Regions from separate parts of the Homo sapiens genome. Here all the other regions are linked to region 6. Evidence: fine-mapped expression QTL. A gene starts in region 6. Each other region holds a variant in brackets. All regions are shown on one strand. Distances are from middle to middle. Region 1 overlaps TMEM202-AS1 (TMEM202 antisense RNA 1). Region 2 overlaps CELF6 (CUGBP Elav-like family member 6). Region 3 overlaps CELF6 (CUGBP Elav-like family member 6). Region 4 overlaps TMEM202 (transmembrane protein 202). Region 5 has its middle 13 kb from the start of CELF6. Region 6 holds the start of HEXA (hexosaminidase subunit alpha).

What was found. PIP is the estimated chance that this variant, and not a neighbour inherited with it, causes the effect.
Region 1: its variant is the best candidate, but not a certain one, in a credible set for the expression of HEXA in unexposed skin (GTEx, PIP 0.61).
Region 2: its variant is the best candidate, but not a certain one, in a credible set for the expression of HEXA in aorta (GTEx, PIP 0.67).
Region 3: its variant is the best candidate, but not a certain one, in a credible set for the expression of HEXA in subcutaneous fat (GTEx, PIP 0.83).
Region 4: its variant is the best candidate, but not a certain one, in a credible set for the expression of HEXA in T cells (TOPMed, PIP 0.84).
Region 5: its variant is the best candidate, but not a certain one, in a credible set for the expression of HEXA in blood mononuclear cells (TOPMed, PIP 0.67).

Annotation. Positions count from the first base shown.
Region 1 is chr15:72,412,568-72,416,655 of GRCh38, reverse strand. The region is part of intron 2 of TMEM202-AS1 (TMEM202 antisense RNA 1); the gene reads left to right. Among named protein-coding and RNA genes, the nearest start is that of TMEM202, 16 kb to the right of the region's middle. The variant G/A (reference allele first, on the strand shown) is at 2,297.
Region 2 is chr15:72,301,127-72,305,214 of GRCh38, reverse strand. It overlaps CELF6 (CUGBP Elav-like family member 6), which reads left to right. Exons shown (of 13, transcript NM_052840.5): 3 at 421-469. Among named protein-coding and RNA genes, the nearest start is that of CELF6, 17 kb to the left of the region's middle. The variant A/G (reference allele first, on the strand shown) is at 1,668.
Region 3 is chr15:72,289,411-72,293,498 of GRCh38, reverse strand. CELF6 (CUGBP Elav-like family member 6) reads left to right here. Exons shown (of 13, transcript NM_052840.5): 4 at 3,244-3,372; 5 at 3,481-3,560; 6 at 3,729-3,872; 7 at 3,992-4,088. Among named protein-coding and RNA genes, the nearest start is that of PARP6, 19 kb to the right of the region's middle. The variant T/C (reference allele first, on the strand shown) is at 1,644.
Region 4 is chr15:72,404,149-72,408,236 of GRCh38, reverse strand. It overlaps TMEM202 (transmembrane protein 202), which reads right to left. Exons shown (of 5, transcript NM_001080462.3): 3 at 1,486-1,635; 4 at 1,020-1,151; 5 at 1-546. The coding sequence ends at 344. TMEM202-AS1 (TMEM202 antisense RNA 1) reads left to right here. Exons shown (of 4, transcript NR_135678.1): 4 at 392-458. Among named protein-coding and RNA genes, the nearest start is that of TMEM202, 7.9 kb to the right of the region's middle. The variant C/T (reference allele first, on the strand shown) is at 2,526.
Region 5 is chr15:72,331,019-72,335,106 of GRCh38, reverse strand. No RefSeq gene overlaps it. Among named protein-coding and RNA genes, the nearest start is that of CELF6, 13 kb to the right of the region's middle. The variant C/G (reference allele first, on the strand shown) is at 2,180.
Region 6 is chr15:72,373,959-72,378,046 of GRCh38, reverse strand. HEXA (hexosaminidase subunit alpha) reads left to right here and starts at 2,033. Exons shown (of 14, transcript NM_000520.6): 1 at 2,033-2,327. The coding sequence starts at 2,075. HEXA-AS1 (HEXA antisense RNA 1) reads right to left here and starts at 1,934. Exons shown (of 1, transcript NR_027262.1): 1 at 1-1,934. RefSeq lists enhancers at 1,274-1,323, 1,654-1,793, 1,685-2,241, 2,242-2,797.

The DNA of each region.
Region 1 (4,088 bases), 39 kb before region 6:
CTGACTTTTTAATGATCACCATTCTAACTGGTGTGAGATGGTATCTCATTGTGGTTTTGATTTGCATTTCTCTGATGGCCAGTGATGATGAGCATTTTTTCATGTGTCTGTTGGCTGCATAAATGTCTTCTTTTGAGACGTGTCTGTTCATATCCTTCGCCCACTTTTTGATGGGGTTGTTTGATTTTTTCTTGTAAATTTGTTTAAGTTCTTTGCGGATTCTGGATATTAGCCCTTTGTCAGATGGGTAGATTGCAAAAATTTTCTCCCATTCTGTAGGTTCCCTGTTCATTCTGATGGTAGTTTCTTTTGCTGTGCAGAAGCTCCTTAGTTTAATTAGATCCCATTTGTCAATTTTGGCTTTTGTTGCCATTGCTTTTGGTGTTTTAGACATGAAGCCCTTGCCCATGCCTATGTCCTGAATGGTATTGCCTAGGTTTTCTTCTAGGGTTTTTATGGGTTTAGGGCTAACATTTAAGTCTTTAATCCATCTTGAATTAATTTTTGTATAAGGTGTAAGGAAGGGATCCAGTTTCAGCTTTCTACATATGGCTAGTCAGTTTTCCCAGCACCATTTATTAAATAGGGAATCTTTTCCCCATTTCTTGTTTTTGTCAGGTTTGTCAAAGATTAGATGGTTGTAGATGTGTGGCATTATTTCTGAGGGCTCTGTTCTGTTCCATTGGTCTATATCTCTGTTTTGGTACCAGTACCATGCTGTTTTGGTTACTGTAGCCTTGTAATGTAGTTTGAAGTCAGGTAGCATGATGCCTCCATCTTTGTCCTTTTGGCTTAGGATTGTCTTGGCAATGCGGGCTCTTTTTTGGTTCCATATGAACTTTAAAGTAGTTTTTTCCAATTCTGTGAAGAAAGTCATTAGTAGCTTGATGGGGATGGCATTGAATCTATAAATTGCCTTGGGCAGTATGGCCATTTTCACGATATTGATTTTTCCTAGGACTCATGGATTTTTAAAAAAATTCAAAGTGTAATAATCTAGTACTTTCATTACTCTTTTTGATGCTTAGATTTCCTCTGGATCGGCCAGTGAAGGTCCCTAAAGTTTGCTTTTCACATATAGGCCTTTGATCTTTTGGAACTTAAAAACAAAAAGATCACAAAGCAGGGATGTAGTTTTATGTTTTTTTCCGTATTTAACCAGTTACATCAGCCCCATTAGGTGGACAGTCCATAGTTCCCTCATTCTGTTTTTTTTTTTTTAATGTTTCTTCTGTATTTCTAGGCTTTCTATTCTGTTCTGTTTATGTAATCATGTGCCAATACCACATTATCTATTTTTTTTTCTTTTTGAGAAGGAGGGAGAAACAGGGTGTCACTGTGTTGTTCAGGCTTGTTTTGAACTCCTGTCCTCAAGCGATCCTCCCACCTCAATCTCCCAAGTAGTTGGGATTATAGGTGTGAGCCACTGCACCTGACTTCCACAGTCTTAATTACAATAATTTGATAAGTCATCTTCACATCAGGTAATGTAAATGTCTCCATCCTTTTATTTTTCACAATTATCTTGGCCCTTTTGGGCCCTTTGCAAAAAGGACAGAATGAGCTGTCCTGAATTTGGGTACCTGACTCTTGTTCATTTTCCACAGAAAAAAAAATCTGTGAGATTTTTGTTGTGAATTGCATTGAATCCACAGGTTAATTTGGATATTTACCATCTTATAGATTCAAAATATTAAGCAGATATTGATAGTATTACAAGGAAAAAATTTAAAACGTGAAGCCATCATGGGAGACTTAACACAGAAAAACATAAAACAAAGAGTAGTAAAGATGGTGCGGTGTGGTGGCTCAGGCCTGTAATCCCAGCACTTTGGGAGGCCGAGGCAGGTGGATCACTTGAGGTCAGGGGTTCAAGACCAGCCTGGCCAACATGGTGAAACCCCGTCTCTACTAAAAATACAAAAATTAGCCAAGTGTGATGGTGAGTGCCTGTAATCCCAGCTACTCAGGAGGCTGAGGCAGGAGAATCACTTGAACCCGGGAGGCAGAGGCTGCAGGAAGCCAAGATCACGCCACTGCACTCCAGCCTGGGAGACAGAGCAAGACTCCATCTCAAAACAAACAAACAAAAACACCAAAGAGCAGTAAAGAAACAGAAGATTTAAACAATAAAATATGCTTGAGTAATGTATATGTAAATATGTATACCTACGTATATACTTTAGTTATGTCCTTTTCATGCTTTCACTCTTTTTTTTTTTTTTTTTTGCTTAATTAGGTTTACTTGTAGTTTGCCTTTCATTTAGTTTTTGTCCAAAGAAATAGATTTTAGTCT[G/A]TCATTTGAACCTAAGGTTTTTTCATATTTTTACAAAGTTTAGTTTAAAAATTTTCTTCCTTCTTTGGTCTTTTCTAGTTATTCTTTTACAGGTTCGTGAATTGCATGCATAACTCATTTATTTTAAACTATTTTTGTTGGTTGTTTTGTTTTTAATGCATCTATGGGTTTTGGTTATAGTAATTCTTTCATGGTTGTTTAGTTCTAAATATTTTATCATTTCCATTGTGATTTCCTTTTTACCCAATTTTTTTAGGGAGCATTATTTTGTCCTAAAAGATGTAGAGCTTTGTTTTTGTTTTTGTTTCTGTTTGTTTCTGTTTTGTTTTGTTTTGAAGAGTCTAGTTCTGTTACCCATGCTGGAGTGCAGTGACGTGATCTCAGCTCACTGCAACCTCTTCCTCCCAGGCTCAAGCAATTCTTGTGTCTCAGCCTCCCAAGTAGCTGGGACTACAGGCACCTGCCATTGCACCCAGCTATTTTTTTTATTATTATACTTTAAGTTCTAGGGTACATGTGCACAACATGCAGGTTTGTTACATATGTATTCATGTGCCATGTTGGTGTGCTGCACTCATTAACTCGTCATTTACATTAGGTATATCTCCTAATGCTATCCCTCCCCCCTCCCCACTCCCCCCACCCCACAACAGGCCCTGGAATGTGATGCTCCCCTTCCTGTGTCCAAGTGTTCTCATTGTTCAATTCCCACCTATGAGTGAGAACATGTGGTGTTTGGTTTTTGGTCCTTGCGATAGTTTGCTGAGAATGATGGTTTCCAGCTTCATCCATGTCCCTACGAAGGACATGAACTCATCATTTTTTATGGCTGCATAGTATTCCATAGTGTATATGTGCCACATTTTCTTAATCCAGTCTATCATTGTTGGACATTTGGGTTGGTTCCAAGTCTTTGCTATTGTGAATAGTGCCACAATAAACACACGTGTGCATGTGTCTTTATAGCAGCATGATTTATACTCCTTTGGGTATATACCCAGTAATGGGATGGCTGGGTCAAATGGTATTTCTAGTTCTACATCCCTGAGGAATCGCCACACTGACTTCCACAATGGTTGAAATAGTTTACAATCCCACCAACAGTGTAAAAGTGTTCCTATTTCTCCACATCCTCTCCAGCACCTGTTGTTTCCTGACTTTTTAATGATTGTCATTCTAACTGGTGTGAGATGGTATCTCGTTGTGGTTTTGATTTGCATTTCTCTGATGGCCAGTGATGATGAGCATTTTTTCATGTGTCTGTTGGCTGCATAAATGTCTTCTTTTGAGAAGTGTCTGTTCATATCCTTCGCCCACTTTTTGATGGGTTTGTTTGATTTTTTCTTGTAAATTTGTTTGAGTTCTTTGCGGATTCTGGATATTAGCCCTTTGTCAGATGGGTAGATTGCAAAAATTTTCTCCCATTCTGTAGGTTCCCTGTTCACTCTGATGGTAGTTTCTTTTGCTGTGAAGGAGCTCTTTAGTTTAATTAGATCCCATTTGTCAATTTTGGCTTTTGTTGCCATTGCTTTTGGCGTTTTAGACATGAAGTCCTTGCCCATGCCTATGTCCTGAATGGTAATGCCTAGGTTTTCTTCTAGGGTTTTTATGGTTTTAGGTCTAACATTTAAGTCTTTAATCCATATTGCATTAGATGGGGAAAAAACAGAGCAGAAAAACTGAAAATTCTAAAAATCAGAGCGCCTCTCCTCCTCCAAAGGAATGCAGCTCCTCACCAGCAACGGAACAAAGCTGGACGGAGAATGACTTTGATGAGTTGAGAGAAGAAGGC
Region 2 (4,088 bases), 73 kb after region 6:
ATGACACATAGCGTGATATTCTCCATTTTAGACATAAAACACAAATCTGCAGTATCAATTCTACCCTCCTTCCCAATCCTCTCATGCAAAGCCTTTAAGTAAGTCCAGAAGCCAAAGGGACAGGCCTCACATAGCCCCTGCCCAGAGCCCCAGGCAGAAAAGTCTCTTTAGCCGCTTCATTCCACCTTGTGCTTGCCACTAAGTTCCTGTCACCCATCCCTGCCAGTTTCAGCACCTTCTAAATTCCTGGGTTTAAGGAAGGAATCTTGGAGAAAATCTGTAATCCCAGTTTGGAAGTGGTAGAGTGCAGAGTTCAAAGGGGCTAGGGCTCAGATCCTGAGGAGTCCAGGGTTCGAGAAGCTGGGGGCTCCAGGACCAGGCAGTCACGCTGAATGGGTGTGTTGGTCCGATGTCTTTCAGATGAATCGTCCGATCCAAGTGAAGCCAGCTGCCAGTGAGGGCCGAGGAGGTAACTTCCCTGTCTGACCAACCTCAGGCTGCAACCCGTGTAAGGGAGGGTGGGCCCACACCTGGAGTCTGTCCTACCCATTTAGTATGAGAGCCTCCCTGGGTCAAGGGGACAGGTGGGGCTCAGAGTTGCTGAGCCCCAGAAATAGCTCAGCCTTCCCTGCTCAGACTGAGCAGGGCTGGGGTTCTGGGGAGCCCAGGCCCAGAAGAGGCAAGAAGGGCCTAAACAGATGCCAGTGATAGAGAAAGGGGGTTCTTGCCACTTACCCTTGGAGAGAGATCATTCCTGTTTTGCCACATGGAACTTTCAGGGTTTCGTTGTTGTTGTTGTTTTTAAGAATCAGGTGGGGGTTATTCTCCTTCTCCATATCCTTCTGATATCAGAAAACACAGTCCGTTTCGGATTGAGGCCATTCCTTCATTGTAATTGCCTAGCTGCTCATGGTAAAAGATAAGGCTGGTACGACAGACTTTATGGGCCATAGTAAGTCCTCTATGCTGAGGACCATGGAAAGCTCTGATAGCTACACTGTTTCCTGGTAGAGAAAAAACAGAGCTCCTTAAGAACAGGAGGTGGGCTGAGCACGGTGGCTCATACCTATAATCCCAGCACTTTGGGAGGCTGAGGTGGGTGGATCATTTGAGGCCAAGAGTTCGAGACCAGCCTGGGCAACATGGTGAAACCTCGTCTCTACTACAAATAGATAAATTAGCCGGGTGTGGTAGTGGATGCCTGTAATCCCAGCTACTCGGAGGCTGAGGCAGGGAGGCTGAGGCAGGAGAATCGCTTAAACCTGGGAGGCGGAGGTTGTAGTGAGCCGAGATCACGCCATTGCACTCCAGCCTGGGCAACAGAGCATGACTCTGTATCAAAACAAAAACAAAAACAAAAACAAAACCACATAGGACGGTTAGAGAGCCTGTGCTTTCTTCTAACCAGCTGGGTTCTGGCCAGCTTCCAAGCTGTAAAGGCAAGGCTGGATTCTGGTGTCAGTTCTTGGTGTTTTTCTCACCCTTGCATCTTAGATCCTTCCAGTGTATCAGCCTATAGCCCTCCCTGATGTCTGCTGACTCTTTATCTTGGGTAAGACTCTCTTCCTGTCTAACCCAAGATCAGCCATGGCTTTGCTAGCTGAAAGAAGCTGCCCGAGTTCAGGAACAGAATGGAACCCAATTGATATAAACATGTATTGAGTCCT[A/G]CTAATTCTGTACCCCTCTCAGACTTCATGCTCAGTCTGAGAACCCACACACAGAGTTCTGGTGACTTTGTGGTTCCACTGTGAAGTTCGTTCCTCCAAGAAATACTTCCATTATCCTTTTAGATTCTCTGACCTCTGGTCTCTGATTCTTGATTTCTGGTCAAAATGTTATCACCTTCACCTTGTCTTGGAGAGATATTTCCAAGTTTCCTCCTCCATCCACACACACATTCTCCTTTCCCTTTTTATTCTTTCCAGTCAGGTTTTTGAGATGTTCCAGGCTGCATGCAAAACTTCATGTTCATGTAACCCAAGAATTTCTGCCTCTTGGGAAACTCTTTTATGCATCAAGGCCATTGTTGGCCAACTACTAAGCCCTGCCCACAACCATGAGCCAGTCCCACAGCTGAGAAGCCAACTAAGAGTATGTGAGTGAGCTGTGAAGCAGACAGGTTCAACCACACAACCAACATCTTCTGAGCAACTTACTCCACAGCAGGAATACAGATGTGAGCAAAGCAGACCTGGTACCTGGCCTCATGAAGCACGGATGCTATGAGAGGATATGGACAAGTAAACAAGGGAACACAATTCAGTGTGATCACTGCTTTCAAGGGGAAGTCCAGGGGAATTGTGGGGACACAAACAAGGGGCACCTAACCCAGTCTGGAAGATCAAAGTGGGTTCCCAGAGGAGTAATATTTAAGCTGAGACCTCAAGGATGAATAGGAAGTAGTCAGAGAAAAGAGGAGAGAGGGAGCAAGCATGTTGGGCAGAGGAAGAGCATGTCCGCAGGCCCCAGAGCTCAGAAGAACGTGGTGCAATTTGGAGTCTTGCTCAGGAACTAAGTCCACAATGCTAGGGCACTCCTGCTGTATGGAGTCCACTACATCTTGTCAGTGTTTGGGCAGCCGCACAAAGGGGGCCTCCATGCTGATAGTGCTTTTGCTTGGCCTGGTTGATGTGTTCTGGTGGTCTGGGCTCTAAGCAATGACATCAGCTTGAGTTGTAGAATTTTCTTTCCACATTTTTGTATAAACTTTGCAGGTGTCACATCATTAAAAAATTCTGTACATATGGCATTTCCACCTATACACCTGTTTAAAAGAGCAGGAAAAGCAAATCTAGCTGAAAAAGAGTATTGCCTGGCAGCAGAACTCATAATTTAGCAGTTGTGTTACACAGATATTTCTGGACAAGTGGTGGCTCTCAAGAAGCATACACTCCAAATGCATCCATGAATAATCCTTCTTGCAGGTTTGGATGACCAGATCTCTCAATTCCTCCCTGCTCCCTACTATATATTCAGGAGAGAAAAGGCCTATGTATCCAGTCTTGCAGAACAGTTGGGCCTTTACAATTTATAAGTATTTTAATACTAACAGATCTGTGTTAGATAATCATTACTAATCAAAATGTATTTTCTTCAGTGCTATCATATATCTCTTCTAAAGTGAGTTCAACCCTCTGCTGAATTTTAACACAACCTAATGCTTTAGAAAGTCAACTTTTTGGCTGGGAGCAGTGGCTCACGCCTGTAATCCCAGCACTTTGGGAGGCCGAGGCGGGCGGATCACGAGGTCAGGAGATCAAGACCATCTTGGTTAACACGGTGAAACCCCATCTCTACTAAAAATACAATAATTAGCCAGGTGTGGTGGCGGGCGCATGTAGTCCCATCTACTCAGGAGGCTGAGACGGGAGAACGGCGTGAACCCAGCAGGCGGAGCTTGCAGTGAGCCAAGATCGCACCACTGCACTCCAGCCTGGGTGACAGAGTGAGACTCTGTCTCAAAAAAAAAAAAAAAAAAAATCAACTTTTTAAAATGGTATTGGATTTTGCTTTTAAAATGTAACATTTGGCAACAACGTGGAACAGCGTGTCCCATTTAAGTCTTATATCTGTGACCTCAAACATTCTATAAACTGTCAGAGTCAATGGTCACACACACCTGACCAGATATATTTACGCCAGTAAGCCTGTGTCTTCTAAAATTATTCCTGAAATTAAATCCCTTAGTTTACCATTGGTTAATAATGGTTTCTTTATCCGATAAGAGTACTGATGTCAATGAAAACAATCTAAGGGATATCAAGGCCAACATATTCTTCCAAAACCTTCCAGTTTCTTCTGGAAGGGATTATGCATGATTTTTCTTCCCATCAAGTAGGGATCATCAGCTCAAATACTACAGGAGCCCAGGTAGGTAACCTTAAATGGATGAGACTCCCATGTTTTAATAAAATAATTTACAGCTGGGCATGTGGGCTGGTGCCTGTAATCCCAGCACTTTAGGAGGCCAAGGCGGGAGGATGACTTGAGCTCACAAGTTTGAGACCAGCCTGGGCAACATGGTGAAGCCCTGTCTCTGCAAAAAATATGCAAAAATTAGCTGGGTGTGGTGGCATACATCTTTAGTC
Region 3 (4,088 bases), 85 kb after region 6:
CTTTTATTCAGACATTTCTGACTTGCCTCTTGTAGCGTCCGCTTTTTATCCAAATGATAGAATTTGATCTAGAGGAAACTGAATTATCTGGGCTACATCCCATCATCATCTCTCTTTGGAGGCAATCAATGATCAGCCATCAGAATGTTCAGATCTGTGGGTTTGCGGGGCTACTGTTAGGGGTCCAGCATGTACTTCTCTTTGGCCGGGTCTCTTAAGAAACTTATCCCACCATTTCTGGGTCACCTGAGGCTCATGACCACTGTGATCCAGCTTATCCTCCTGTCAAACACAATCAAGGTCCCTGTAAAGTGGCAAAGAGGATACCAGGATTTAAGGTGATACCTGGGAAACAGGAGCCTAGAGCCCACCCCATGGTAGATACTCATTTCCATTCCAAACTCTGTACATCCCAGTAGTCCAGATCCATAGGGTCAGTGCCCTGACAGGGAAATGGAAAAAAAAATTTTTTTAGTTGGAGTCTCACTCTGTCGCCCAGGCTGGAGTGCAGTGGTACAATCTCGGCTCACTGTAACCTCCGCCTCCTAGGTCCAAGCCATTTTCCCACCTCAGTCTCCTGAATAGCTGGGATTATAGGCATGTGCCACCACGCCTGGCTATTTTTATATTTTTAGTAGAGATGGGGTTTTACCATGTTGGCCAGGCTGGTCTCAAACCCCCGACCTCAAGTGATCAGCCCACCTTGGCCTCCCAAAGCACTGGGATTATAGGCGTGAGCCACTGCGCCCTGCTGAAAATTCTTAACTTGTGAGATTCTCACTGGAAAAGAGGATCGGAAAATTTCACCATCAGCAGAAAAAGCAACAAGAGGCAGAGCAGATGAAGGATCAGATCACCACTGTCAGTACAAACCTCTTTTCTGTCTTATGGGCTCTATCTCAGCCTGTGATGTCTCTCTTCCTACACAAGGCTACCTGGATTCTGGTCCATGTGGTATGATATCTTATTGGGGTGCCATCACCATTTTTCAGACCCTGCCCAATGACACAGCTCCACTACAAATTAGGGCATTGTGAAGCCCCCCTTGGGACTATGGAGGCCCTAGACTCTTCTCCAGCCTCTCCCAGGCCTTCTGCAGCCCAGAATAACTTAGAACAATGGCATGGTCTTTCGGGGTTTGATTCTCTGGCCAAATGAGCCCATTCTCCAATGTCAAGGCAAAGCCATCAGATTGGTTGAGAGACTCATGAAAGACCTTTCCTGTCTTCTCAGGCTCCTGAACAGGATGATCTCAGATCCCCCCTCAAACAACAGCTGGAACTCTGTTCTCTATCTTCTAGGTCAGTAATTTCAAAGGGCTTTCCTTGGAGCCCCTCTAGGGAGTATTAGGGGAGGATCAAGCAAGATGAACTCCACCCCTCCTTTTCTGGCTTCAGTCACAGCAGTTCTATTTTTCTCTTACATTTTGAGCTTCATCCTAATATTTATGTTAGAACAATGTATTCCACTGATTTTTCAAAAGGTTGGGAAACCAGTGATCTGTTCCAAGGGCACTATTCTGTGGCTGACACCCCCAGAAGCAAAGTACACCCACCAGGTTGTACTCTCACCACAGAAGGTCACTGGTGAGACCTTCTTTCCTCCATCAGAATTCCAGCCACAAGTCCATTATCCATCCCCTC[T/C]CCAAGGATCATCGGATGGTACCTCTCTGGACAGACGGCAGAATTTTGCTAAAACACATTTTGCCTGCCCCTTATGAACTGCAGCCCCTGCCCTCCACACAGACATAGCATCGTCAGACAGACAGACACTTCAGGATCCCCAAGGCAGCCTAGGCCAAACCCCACACCACCCGGGTGACATATGGACACACACATAGTCTTGTTGGAGATTTCTCCCCTGCTAACTTCGTTCAGTTTTGAACAGTCTGTTCTTCCTTCGCTGTCACCCAGGCTTCAGTCTATGACCCCCCACTAGCCTTGTTTTCCCTGCACTCAGAATCCAAGGACCCCCATCTGCCTAGCCAAGCTGGTCAAGGAGTAGAACCATTTAGGATGGGTTTTCCTGCACTCCAAGGTCTTGAAGATGAAGCCTGAAACCAGTTTCCTACCCACTCCTTCTCTCCCAACTTGTATTGTCCCCTACATGGTCAAGCCCCATCCCAAATTCAGAGATTTACCTTGGTGCAGAGAAGAGCCCCAGACTTTAACAGCAGGCTGGACCCCTCTACCCCACGCTCCCAGAGTGTTCCTGAGGCCTAACTTGCTGGATGTGCGGCAAAACCCTAGTTTCCAGCCCCAGCTCTCCAGCTTTCTTCGAGGGACACAGGCCCAGCTTGCAGCCCCTTTCCTGCATTTCTGCCACTCCCATAGAAAGGGTGGACACAGGGAGGAATCAGACTGGTTCTCTGGTGGCAATCCAGGTCTATAGGCAGAACTTGTTCTCTCATAGCATGAACATTTTGGGAGGCATCAGGGCAAGAGGACAGGGGAATCAGAGGGAAGGATACAGACAGGGCACTAGAAGCTTGCTGAAGGGACAGGGTGGTGGAGGTGGGAGTTAAGGAAAGGGGTCAGGGGTTCAGCAACTGTAGTAGGAAAAATGCTAATGTTGGAGGCTCAGGAAACCAAGGTCCTGCTCTCTGTAGGCCTTTGGGAGGGGCATCCAGGTTGGATGTGGTGCAGAGGGTAAGGATTCATCATGCCAGTGCTCAGTGCCTAAAGATGAGGCAGTAGGATGACAGGACTGTTTTCTGTGCTGTTTCTAAATCCAGAACCCTCCTTGATATTAGCAGGAAGGGGCATTGATTCTAGCCAGCACTATCAGGCTGACCAGCAAGGATGTACTTCTCTTCTCTGGACCCAGTCTGAATAGAAAGGCTTTCTCTGAGCACCCGCTTCCTTAATAGTACAGAAATGGTCCAAAACAGCGTTTCCCAACCTCTAAGAACAGAAAGGTCAAACATGTAAAACAATGCATATAGGGCTCTACCCAGCCAGAGATATCAAGACTGCATTACTCCCCACAAGAGCAGCCCTGAGCCTCTCTGGGTTTCCCCAGGACCCAGGTTTTCCTGATGGAAAGCTGAGCTGAGCTCCCTTCTCCAGATCCCTTCCCCAGATCCTGCCCCTCAATGAAAACCAACCCTGGAAGCCCAGGGCCTTCTCACTCCCTCTGCTTCCCAGAGTGAGACTGGTGAGCTGCCTTCCTAAGTTCCTCAGGCTACTCTCGGGGGTCTAGGAAGACTTGGGGTCCCCAGGTCATTCCTGGCTTTGTCCCCAGAGGACCGAAAGCTGTTTGTGGGGATGCTGGGCAAGCAGCAGGGTGAGGAGGACGTCAGACGCCTGTTCCAGCCCTTTGGCCACATCGAGGAGTGCACGGTCCTGCGGAGTCCTGACGGCACCAGTAAAGGTGACCTGAGCTGACCCCGGGATTTCCTGGTGACCCTTCCTCACTCTGGGCCACATAACTCTTTGGCCCCTGTGGCCTGAGCCACCCGCTCCCTCTGTCCTGCCCCAGGCTGTGCCTTTGTGAAGTTCGGGAGTCAAGGGGAAGCTCAGGCGGCCATCCGGGGTCTGCACGGCAGCCGGACCATGGCGGTGAGGGCGGGTTCCCTGGGCTGAGGGTGAGGCCAGTGGGGTGGGGACGGGCTTCTCCTCCCCGAGTGTGCTCGGTGCCCCGCGAAAGGACCTGATGGGAAAGGCGCTCGGCCCCGGGCCGGGGCCAGGGTCAGGACCGGTCACCACGGCCTCCCCTGCCCTGCCCAGGGCGCCTCGTCCAGCCTCGTGGTCAAGCTGGCGGACACCGACCGGGAGCGCGCGCTGCGGCGGATGCAGCAGATGGCCGGCCACCTGGGCGCCTTCCACCCCGCGCCACTGCCGCTAGGGGCCTGCGGCGCCTACACCACGGCGGTAGGTACCGGGCACCTGCGTGCGAGGGCGCGCAGGTGGGTGGGCCAGGCCTGGGGCTGAGAGCACGGGCAGCTGCCTGCCCCTTGGCCCTCCACTCTCGCCCATCTTTCCTCTCAAAGATCCTGCAGCACCAGGCGGCCCTGCTGGCGGCGGCACAGGGCCCAGGCCTAGGCCCGGTGGCGGCAGTGGCGGCCCAGATGCAACACGTGGCGGCCT
Region 4 (4,088 bases), 30 kb before region 6:
GAAGTAATTAACATTCTTCTCCACGGGCCATTCTGGTCCATGAGATCCCTGATACCCAAAGAGGTCTCTGGTCTACACACTGCATCTTTCACTAGTTTCTTTCATTCATGACTCTAAACATTGTTGTTTTCTTTTAGAAATGTTTTTCTTAAGTGAGTTATTTACTTTATGACTATCATATATATTTTGGATCCAATGCACGCAAAAGACATTTCATCAGCTTTAATGCTGTCTCCTCAAGTAATATGGACATGATATTAGGAGAGTTTCCCAGAATTTATGTGACCATTCCCAACTCAGCTTCTCCCCTGCTTTTAAGACAAGCTATAGTTAGGTTTTCCTATCACCACCACAGTCCTGACTTTGGTAAATTTTTCTCTCTCACACTTAGAGATTCCATCTCAGACCTTGGCCCTTCATCTTTAGCAGGTGATACTGTAGTCACCGGACCAACCCCCAGCCTTGATCTCTCTGTTGGAATCACAGTGACGTTTTCATCACAGGCAGGCGATCTGGAAGTTAAGTAGTTGAGAAGAGAGATGATCCCTACGGGAAGGGAATAATTTGAGGTGAGGTTCAATAGGCAATGGTCTTTTGGCTTTTAAAATTCTTATGCATCCTTTAATAACCAGTTCAAGAGGCATCTTTTCAGTGAACCCCTCTCTCCCCCAGTGGAGTTACTTTACCCTCCTGTGCTCTAATTGCATTATAATATTTCTCAGACTGATTAGGACAAAGCTTGAACCTCCTGGATTCAGATCATAGTTCCACTATTTTCTGTGTGGTCTTGGGCAAGTTACTCAACTTGTCCATGCCTCACTTTGTGATAGAGCAGGTTACTAATGCTAGGTTTTCAGACTCTAAAATCCACCCTTTCTTCATTATGCCCCCCTGACTCTCCAAGTATCAGTGTTCTGAAAAGGAACAGTCAGTGCTTCTATTTCTCCTGGATTATACCTCCCTTTCCAGAAGCGATTTCCCTATCCATCCTTCTAGCATAGAGCAGGGAAGTGACTCACCAGCAAACATGTAAAAGATGTCACTGCACCAGTTAAGATAATAGGTCCATAGGAGATCTGACTCCATGGCATCCCTAGTATGCCAGTGAACCTGTGCCACAAACAGGTTGAGGCAGAGGAGCAAGCAGGTAGCTAGGACCAGAAGGAAAGATGTCACAACCCATCAGCATCTTCAGTCTGTCTTCCCCGCCACCCCCAGCTCTTTGGCCTCCAGAGGCCATATGTATAGCGAGGATCAAAAAGATAAAAACCTGGGGACTGACCAAGATGAGAGAAAGGCTCTATACCCTGGTAAAGTCAGCTAAGGTGTGTTCTATATAATTAGATAAGGCAGATAGCTGGCAAGTTGGTGTGATACTGAAGAAGAGCAAAGAGATAAGAAAAAGAGTATGAGAGTTCCACAGAGAAAATTTGTTACCTTGACTATTTTACCATGGTAAAATACCCTGCCAGTCTAGGTCTGTACCTGAGATGAAGCTGAGCATGGATACCTTCAGATCCAAGTTGGTGGTCATGCTTCCTCGATTAAGGATCCAAGAGCTGAAGAGCCAGCCAAGGCCAGTAAGTATGGTAAAGACAGAGATGAGAAAGAAGGCCCTGGAATATTGGAGATAATCTGCATGAAGAAGAGGAAAGGAAGACCGTGGTTAGTCCAGTGAGGGACCTTCCCTTAAAAAGGCCAGATAGAGTCTTAGAGAAGGATTTAAGAACAAAGGATGATGGAGCAGAGCTTGCTACATGACATCCTTTTTGCTTGGAATTTCTTTACTATGATTGTTAAACTAAAGATAATATACAAATACTTCTGCATGCATTGATTTAGATATAAACTAGCTTATAAAAGGTGTCACCAATGACAAAACAGATTAAACCTTTTTCTTGTTTCTAATTCTAATTCTAAAAGTAGTAAGTAATACGCGTTCAACATAAGTATTCAAAAGACTACAAAAGAACAAAGAAGCAGGAAAAAAATTAGCCACAATTTGACTACCTAGAGGCAACCATTGTTAATATTTTATTTTTCTACCCTCTGTACATAGTAGATATGATACTAGATATCATGTGGGTTTTTTTCTTAAGAATATATGATGTGATTTTCCCCATTATCTGTTGTAAATATTATTTTCGATGGCTACAAAATATTCTATCATATTAATATACTTTGCTTAATGACTTACCCATTGTTTAGTTCCATTGGTTTTTCACTTCCAGCTCTATCTGGCATGTACAGGCCTTGTCAGCCTATGACTACAAAATGAAGTCACATTTACTTTATTTATCTATTTCTTTATTTTATTATTATTTTTTTGAGACAGAGTCTCATTCTGTCACCCAGAGTAGCTGAGATTACAGGCACATGCCACCATGCCTGGCTAATTTTTGTTTTTTTTTAGTAGAAACAGGGTTTCACCATGTTGGCCAGGCTGGTCTTGAACTCCTGACCTCAGGTGATCTGCCCGCCTTGACCTCTCAAAGTGCTGGGATTAAAGGCGTGAGCCACCTCGC[C/T]CAGCCTCATTTACTTTAATTCCATATTATGATGATTTCAAGCCCCAATTTACCAAGCTGCAGGAACTTACCACAAAGTGTTTCCCTCCACTTTTTTTTTATTCTGAGAGTCCCCCAAAGTCCTATCTCATATTTGTTCAAGTTGCTCTTATCCAAGTGCCACACCTCTCCTTCTTCCATCTTTGGCTCTAGGTGTCTTCTCTTTGGCTCTGCCACTGCGGACTGGATGTTGGTAAGAGAGCAGCGGGGATATGCTCAACCTTACTTTTTGCTACCACATCCCTAAGATGGAACAGGTTCTTCGACTTCCCCATCAATATTTTACTGAAGATTTAGAAGATAACTTATAATTACAAGTAGCTATAGCTTTTCTGAGCTACCAGACACCCAGGAATATCTTCAGTATCCCTTATAAGGTGCCTCCTTATCTAGCTTCTTTTTCTGTCCCAGTGTAGCAGGGACCAGCTCACCCCCACCCCAGTGGTTAGAAAGTTCTCTAACCACTTATATGCCTAAGAATCCAAGTCCAGCTTCTGAGTAACCCAGAGAGCAGAAATTATGTATCAAGCTTATCCAGTCTAATATCTGCCTCCTTGTTTCATTTTGTTCTCCAGAACCTGCCACTTACTAATATGATGAATTGCAGGAATTTCCATTCAGAGAAACCACACCCCTATCCACAGATGTTAAGTTGCTCTGTAGCCCTAACAAGTGAGCCACATTAAAACATAGTAATTCACAAGCTGCACATTTTCTGAAGACTGGGTTATGCAGAATTAGCAGTATATGTAGCCAGCCAGAACATAAGCCCAGATTGAGCTGTATGAAGCCCAGGGTAACAGGCAGCCTTTGTGGTATTTAGTCCACAATCCTCCATGAGCTCTAGCAGCCCTTGTCTATAGCCCTTGACTATTGTCTGTATAGCCCTCTGACTATAGCTACCTGGACTAAGCATGGGAACCTGACCCATCCTGGGACAATTTTATTCTTATGCTTAGAAATTGGATTTCCTCTTTTGCTTGCTTGAACTGAGAAGATGTAAAGTTTGACCGGGGTATCACCTTTTAGGCACTTACACACTAATAAACAGGAAAAACTGAGCTGTAGAGATAAAACAAAACATAAACAAAGCTGAATGACAAAGTGACTGTAGAAAATCTGAGTGACTGGCTGGCTTGATTTTCTTTATCTGAGATCCCAGCCTCCTCTGGAATCCCCTAAGGTCCAGCGAACTTCCTGCCTTGGGAGTCTATGTTATTCTTCTGAGCCACATTTTTTTTTCTTTATCTTTTTCTTTGAGACGGGGTCTCAGTCTGTAACCCAGGCTGGAGTGCAGTAGCATGATCTCTACTCACTGCAGCCTCCAACTCCCAGACTCAAGCTATCCTCCCACCTCAGCCTCTTGAGTAGCTGGGACCACAGGTGCACACTACCACACCTGGCTAATTTTTTGTATTTTTGGTGGAGGTGGGGTTTCACCATGTTGCCCAGGCTGGTCTCAAACTCCTGAGCTCAAGCGATCTGCCCACCTCAGACTCCCAAAGTGCTGGGATTACAGTCTTG
Region 5 (4,088 bases), 43 kb after region 6:
ATTCTGTAGAAGGAAAACGTACCCCTAGACCTCCAATTATTTCTAAAAATATTTTTCAAACACAATGCCTATCATATAATCAGAAATAACCAGGCACATGAAGAGAATAATAAGGGAGTAATAACAATCAAGAATTTTACAAAATTAATAACAGGCAACAAACCACAGATCCAAGAGTCTCAGATAGCACCAAGCAGGATAAATGCCAAGTAATAATCTATATCTATAGATTATTATATTCAAACTGCAGAAAATCGAAGACAAAATCTTGAAAGGAGCCAGAGAAAAATAACACCTGCCTATAGGGGAACAAGGATAAGGATTACATTGGCCTTCTCTTCAGAAAACATGCAAGCAAGAAGAGAGTGAAGTGAAATATGTAAGAAAGAAAAAAAGGGGGGATAAACCCACCAGCCTAGAATTCTGTTTCTAGCAAAATTATCCATCAGAAGTGAAGAAGAAATAGATTTTCTCAGACAAAGAAGACTTGAGAAAATTTATCACCAGTAGATCTGCCTTGCAAGAAAATTAAAGAGGTTCTTTGAAGAGAGAGAAAATGATCTAGGGGCTATATGAAAAAAACTTGGGGCTATAGGAAGAAAGGAGGAGCATTAGAGAAGGAGTAAATGAAGATAAAACAAAACATTTTATTTTTCTTAATCTGAAGTGATGTAACAAATAGCAGTTTGTTCGAAATAATAATACCAGCAATGTATTCAGTGATTACCTTATGAATAAGTGAAATACATGACAACAATGTTATAAAGAATGAGGCTGGGCGTGGTGGCTTATGCCTATAATCCCAGCACTTTGGGAGGCTGAGGTGGGCAGATCATAAGGTCAAGAGTTCAAAACCATCCTGGCCAACATGGTGAAACCCCGTCTCTACTAAAAATACAAAAATTAGCTGGACATGGTGGCATGCGCCTGTAATCCCAGCTACTCAGGAGGCTGAGGCAGGAGAATCGCTTGAACCCAGGAAGCAGAGGTTGCAGTGAGCCAAAATCACACCATTGCACTCCAGCCTGGGTGACCTCTTGTCAAAAACAAAAACAAAAAAAAAAAGAATGGGAGAGAGGAATTGGTAATCTCAATGCTTTCGAAGAACAAGATGGGGAGGATTGCTTGAGGCCAAGAGTTCAAGACCAGCCTGGGCAACATAGCAAGACCTGTATTCTCTACAGAAAATAAAAATTAGCCCAGCTACTCAGGAGGCTGAGGCAGGAGGATTGCTTGAGCCTGGGAGGTAAGGCTGCAGTGAGCTATGATTGCACCACTGTGCTTTAGCCTGGGTGACAGAGAAAGACCCTGTCTCGAAAGAAAAAGGAATGAAAGAGAGAGAGAAAGAAAACAAGAGAAAAGGAGACTTGGATTACTTATAAATGTATATTGTGAAATTTAGGGCAGCAACTAAAAATTTTTTTAAAGAGAAGGATTGAGTGCAGTGGCTCACACCTGTAATCCCAGCACTTTGGGAAGCCAAGACAGGAGGATCACTTGAATCCAGGAGTTTGAGAGCAACTGGGACAACATAGTGAGACCCTGTCTCTACAAAAAAATTTTGAAAATTAGCCAGGCATGGTGTTGCAGGCTTGTAGTCCCAGCTACTTAAGAGGCTAAGGCAGGAGAATCTCTTGAGCCTGGGAGGTTGAGGCTACAGTGAGCCATGGTTGTGCCACTGTACTCCAGCCTGAGGGACAGAGTCAGACCCTATGCCCCCAAAAAAGTATAACTGCTATATTAACAGAAAAGAGAAAATGGAATTATATTAAATGATCAGTTAAAACCAAAGAAGACAAAAAAAGAAAGAAAAAAGAAATAGCAATGGCAATTTTATCAATGGTCTAAATACATGAATTTTTTAAAAAGGGCCAGGCTCAGTGGCTTGTGCCTGTAATTCCAGCACTTTGGGAGGCCAAGTTGGGGAGACTGCTTGAGCCCAGGAGTTCAAGACCAGCCTGGGCAACGTGACAAAACTGCATCTCTATAAAAAGTACAAAAAGCCGGTGTGGTGGTGCGTGCATGTAGTCCCAGCTACTCTGGAGGCTGAGGCAGAGGCAGGAAGATCACCTGACCCCAGGAGGTCGAGCCTGCAGTGAGTTGTGATTGTGCCACTGAACTCCAGCCTGGGTGACAGAGAGACCCTGACTCTAATAATAATAATAATTTAAAAAAAAGA[C/G]CCAACTGGTGTTGTCTGTAAGAAATCAACTTTAAATATAGACACAGATGGGTTAAAAGTAAAGGAATGGAGAAAGATGCATCATGCTAACACTAATCAAAAGAAGGCTGGAGGCTGGGCATGGTGGCCCAGCACTTTGGGAGGTCGAGGCGGGAGGATCACTTAAGGCCAGGAGTTTGAGACTAGCCTGGGCAATATAATGAGACCCCCCCATCTCTATGAAAGAAAAAATAAAGCTGTATTAGTTTCAGATGGAGTCAGCTTCAGAGCAAGGAAAATTATGAAGGATAAAGAGGGCCAGGTGTGATGGTTCATGCCTGTAACCCCTGTACTTTGGGAGGCCGAGGCAGGAGGATCACTTGAGACCAGCCTGGGCAACATGGTGAAATGCCATCTCTACAAAAAATACAAAAGTTAGCCAGGCGTGGTGGTATGTGCCTGTAGTCCCAGCTACTCAGAAGGGTGAGGCTAGAGGATCATTTGAGCCTGGGAGTTTGAGGCTGCAGTGAGCCATGATTGCAACAACACTGCACTTCAGCCTTGGTGACAGAGCAAGACCCTGTCTCAAAAACAAACAAAAAAAAAAAAAGAAAAAAAGGATAAAGAGAGGGCCATTACACAATGATAAAGAGATCAGTTCTTCAAGAAGACATAATCCTTTATGGGTATGCCCTAGTATCAAAATACATAAGAGAGAAAAAAAACTGATAGAACTGCAAAAAGAAATAAACAATCTGCTATTATAGTTGGAGTTTTTGACAGCCCTGTATTAGGAGTTAACAGATCCAGGAGGAAGATTGGTAGTGACATAGTTGAAGTGAACAGCAACATGAGTCAACTTGGTCTATATATTCATTTCAAGTTCACACGGAATATTCACCACGATAGACCACATTTTTGGGCATAAAACACTCCTTAACATATTTAAAGAGCTTGAAATCATACATTGTATGCCCCCAAATCACAAAAAAATTAAACAGAATTCAATAACAGAAATATAGCTAGAAAATAGTCAAATATTTAAAGATTAACCAATATACTTCTTTTCTTTTATTATTATTATTTTTTTTTTGGAGATAGAGTCTCACTCTGTCGCCCAGGCTGGAGTGCAGTGGTGCGATCTCAGCTCACTGCAACCTCCACCTCCCAGGTTTAAGCGATTCTCCTGCCTCAGTCTCCGGAGTAGCTTATTAACCAATACACTTCTGAATAATACATAGGCCAAAGAAAAACACTCAAAACCAGCCTAGGAAACATAGTGATACCCCATTTCTAAAAAAAATAAAATAAACAATAATAATAAATTAGCTGGGCGTGGCACACACTTGTGGTCCCAGCTACTCGGGAGGCTGAGGTGGGAGGATCACTTGAGTCCCAGGCAGTCAAGGCTGCAGTGAGCTATTGTGATGGTTAATATCAAGTGTCAATTTGATTGGATTGAAGGATGCAAAGTATTGTTCCTCCATATGTATGTCTGTGAGGATGTTGCCAAAGGAGATTAACAAGTCAGACCCATCCTCAATCCAGTGGTCACAATCTAATCAGCTGCCAGTGCAGCTGGAATAAAGCAGGCAGAAGAACGTGGAAGGACAGACTGGCTGAGTCTTCTGGTCTTCATCTTTCTCCTGTGCTGGATGCTTCCTGCCTTCAAACATCGGACTCCAAGTTTTTCAGCTATTGGACTCTTGGACTTAAGTGATTTGCCAGGGACTCTGGCCTTTGGCCACAGACTGAAGACTGCACTGTCAGCTTCCCTCTTTTGAAGTTTTGGGACTCAGACTGGCTTCTTGCTCCTTAGCTTGCAGATGGCCTATTGTAGGACTTCACCTTGTGATTGTTTGAGTCGATACTCCTTAATAAACTCCCTTTCATATGTACATCTGTCCTATTAGTCCTGGCCTTCTAGAGA
Region 6 (4,088 bases):
TTACTTTTATGTATGCATAAGAATATTTGGTTTAAAAATCTGGTTAAGTCTAAAAGAGCTCTTTCAGTAATAATTAAATAACTGAATCCCTGTAATCCACCATGCTCAGCCCCATTAGTAATTTTTATAGCGTCTTTATTTGGATCTAGCTCTTTCATCTTGTGTAACTCTTTTAAGTAAATGACTCCTCCCTTCTGGTACAGGTTGAATATCCATAAAAGGGTGCCTTGGCATGTGCTCAGTCCTGAAATTCTACTTTGATCTACTGCTCTCATCTTTGAAACTGCTCTAAACACTCCCCCAAATTATTGATCCTGTGGGCCTGATTATGAACTTGGCTCTTCTGACAATACTTCTCAAATCCTGTACCTTTGGTAACATCTCTCCTGACTGGCAGAGTACCCAGACACTTAATTAATGCTGATGAAAATTAAGATTTAAGCAAAGAAGAAATTGGTGTAAGAATGCAAGCCTTAGGATCTGAAACTTGATGACTGTGGGATCTAATTTCTGCTTCTTTTGCTACAAGCTCTGTTTTTGAATAATCAACTTTCAAAGACAAATTGCTTGATGAATCTCTGTATTGTCAGAATGTTTCTTTGATTTCCCATCAAAGCCATGTATGTGTAACTAGTAATTAGGTACCTACGACCTGAATATAAATTATCATTATTTCAGTAGCCCTTTATTTGTTTTTGAGAAAGGGTTTCACTATACTGCCCAGGCTAAACTTGAACTCCTTGGTTCAAGTGATCCTGCCGCCTCAGCCTCCTGAATAGCTGGGAGTAGCTGGGACTACAGGGATGTGTTATCATGCCCAGTGAAAGCCCTTTATTTTTAAAAGTTCATTTTCCTGATCTTTACATGTATTTTAATACTAAAATTAAATTTAAAAATTTTAAAAAGTACCTACTAACCAAATAATGCCACCCAATAACAATAGCATTATTTGTATTATGTTCTGGTAATATAGTGGTGAACAAGGAAGACAGGGTCTCTGATAACTGTGGAATTCTCCTTGATCACTTCTCAAGCCTCTCTTCCGGATACTATTTCTTGGATCTACAGCTGTCTTCCTTCCCCACTTCTGTAGTTCAGTCTCTCATTATTCTCTACCTCCAATAAAAAGGGGCCTCCTAACTGGTTTCTTATGCAACTACTCAACATGGTATTTCTAAAATGCAGATCTTTCGGGATGATTTTCAATTGCTCAGAGAATAAATTCCTTGACTTTCTACGTAAGGCCCTGCAGGACCAGGCCCCTGTCATTATCTCTGAGCACTCTCCATCTTGCACCCAAAGCCCCAGCAATATCTTACTGCTTTCAGTAAATACACACCGGGCTATGTGGGGTTTTGTCTGGGGAAAGGGGATGTGAGTTGTAACTAAGAGATTTATAGTCAATCTTGAAGGGAAGAGCTCATATTGGAGGCAATGGAATGCCTCAAGCTGGCTCTGAAAGTACACATTTTTTCCAGTCATAAGTAGATCACATTTGTGTGATCTTGTGATCCTCTCTCTAGCAGAGCCGTGCAGACTACCTACTTCCGGCCCTTTCTTGCCCCACGAAATTTCACATCACAACGACTTGTGGTTTTAATCCTCCGTTTTTCTGCTTCTGAAGTTACTTCAGCCTGGCAAGTCCTTTACCTCCCCGTAGGCCTGGCGAGCTGCATCACAACATTCAAGATTCACCCTAGAGCCATCTGGGAAACTTTCTTCTCCAGGTCGCCCTGCGTCCTCGCCTCCCCACCCCGTTCTTCTCGAGTCGGGTGAGCTGTCTAGTTCCATCACGGCCGGCACGGCCGCAGGGGTGGCCGGTTATTTACTGCTCTACTGGGCCCGTGAACAGTCTGGCGAGCCGAGCAGTTGCCGACGCCCGGCACAATCCGCTGCACGTAGCAGGAGCCTCAGGTCCAGGCCGGAAGTGAAAGGGCAGGGTGTGGGTCCTCCTGGGGTCGCAGGCGCAGAGCCGCCTCTGGTCACGTGATTCGCCGATAAGTCACGGGGGCGCCGCTCACCTGACCAGGGTCTCACGTGGCCAGCCCCCTCCGAGAGGGGAGACCAGCGGGCCATGACAAGCTCCAGGCTTTGGTTTTCGCTGCTGCTGGCGGCAGCGTTCGCAGGACGGGCGACGGCCCTCTGGCCCTGGCCTCAGAACTTCCAAACCTCCGACCAGCGCTACGTCCTTTACCCGAACAACTTTCAATTCCAGTACGATGTCAGCTCGGCCGCGCAGCCCGGCTGCTCAGTCCTCGACGAGGCCTTCCAGCGCTATCGTGACCTGCTTTTCGGTTCCGGGTCTTGGCCCCGTCCTTACCTCACAGGTGAGTCGGACTTGTCCCGCCCTGTTCCTGGGCCCTGAGAGTGCCTGCCTGGGGACAGTTCCCCCAGGGCTCCAGAGACGCCCTATGGGCTTTTGTCCAGCCCTCTGATCACAGGCACTCCACTTCCTCCTCGAGCTGCATTAGGTTTTCATCCAAAGATAACTACTATAGGACTACGGTTCAATCAGGAGATTAATTTATGGAAAATACTGTGCCAGCAGAAATCTAAGGTGATCCTTCTGACCGTGTTCAAGCTAGCCAGGGTCCTAGTGAGACTGTGAGCAAGGGCTGAGTAGAGACCAGAGAAAACACTCAAAATTGGGGAGACATAATACAAGAACTATGCAAAGTTACATACAAGTTTCTGGCACATAGAATGTTTGGCGGGCGGATCACGAGGTCAGGAGTTCGAGACCAGCCCGGCCAACATAGTGAAACCCCGTCTCTACCAAAAACACAAAAAATTAGCCAGGCGTGGCGGCGCGCGCCTGTAGTCCCAGCTACTCGGGATGCTGAGGCAGGAGAATCGGTTGAACCCATGAGGTGGAGGTTGTGGTGAGCTGAGATCGCGCCACTGCACTCCAGCCTGGGCAACAGAGCAAGACTCCCTCTCAGAAAAACAACCCCCCCCCCCAAACAAAACAAAACAAAACAAAAAAAGTGTAAATTGTGAAAGAAATCATAGAACATAAGGAAGTGAGTTTCCAGCGGCCACTTGGAATGGGATGGTAGATGTAATTAGCCGGGACTGAAAAGAGGGTATTCCAGGCAGGAAGAAGGGCTTGAGCAGAGGCACAAAGAATTATGATTGAGTTCAAAGTTCAGGTCTAGTGGATGTGATGAGTGGGGGCTGGGGATTGAGGAGGGATGAGGGTGGGGAAAATGTGGGGTTGAAGAGTCAAGAGCGCTTTAGACATTGGTTTCACATAAAATGGAAGGGGCTAACAGTTTTCTTTTAGGCAGCTATGTAATCAGTACTGAAAATTGTATTTGAGGATAATTATTCCACAGCACATTTGTAAGTCGAGCCAACAATGTAAAGGAATACAATTCTGCTGCATGGGTTCAAAATTTAGAAGTTTCTTGATAATCTGGAATCTAGCTCTTTGGTTATATTGTATAGATGTTATGGGGGTGGGAGCCACATTTACGGTTAAGTCTTGTAGTAATATTTTATATGATGTTTCAAGTGTGTTTAAATTACTTTCACAAAAGTTATCATTTGATATATAGAATTAAAAGCATTTAATTATACAGATGACCCTTAGAGAGTGACATTTGATTTGGGGAAAGAAACACAATCTCAGCATCAGGGTAGTCCTTAACTGGTAAAATGCATTAAGCTGGAGAGGATAAGAGGCCTGCTGTTGAGTGTGGTAGATCACATTTTCCTCTGAATCCTTCATGACAAATAATAGAGTGCCTTACCCAAGATTGGCACTCAGAATATGTTGATTTTGGTTTAGAAGAGTTTGAGCCTGGTTTATGGAAAAAAAAATCCGTCTAACTGGTATATGTCAATCCCAGTGCTGGGCACTCTGAAGGTTACAAGAAAAGTCTTAAGACCTAGGCCTAGGCTCTATAGTTCAATTGCGAAAATATGAAACAGAGGGAGGTACACAGTGAATTATAAGATTCTCAAAAGCTTTATAGGTTGTTTCCTACTATTGTATACATGAGAATAATTCCTTTCCTTTTTTTTTTTTTTTTTGAGACGGAGTCTCGCTTTATCACTCAGCCTACACTGAGGCTGAGTGCAGT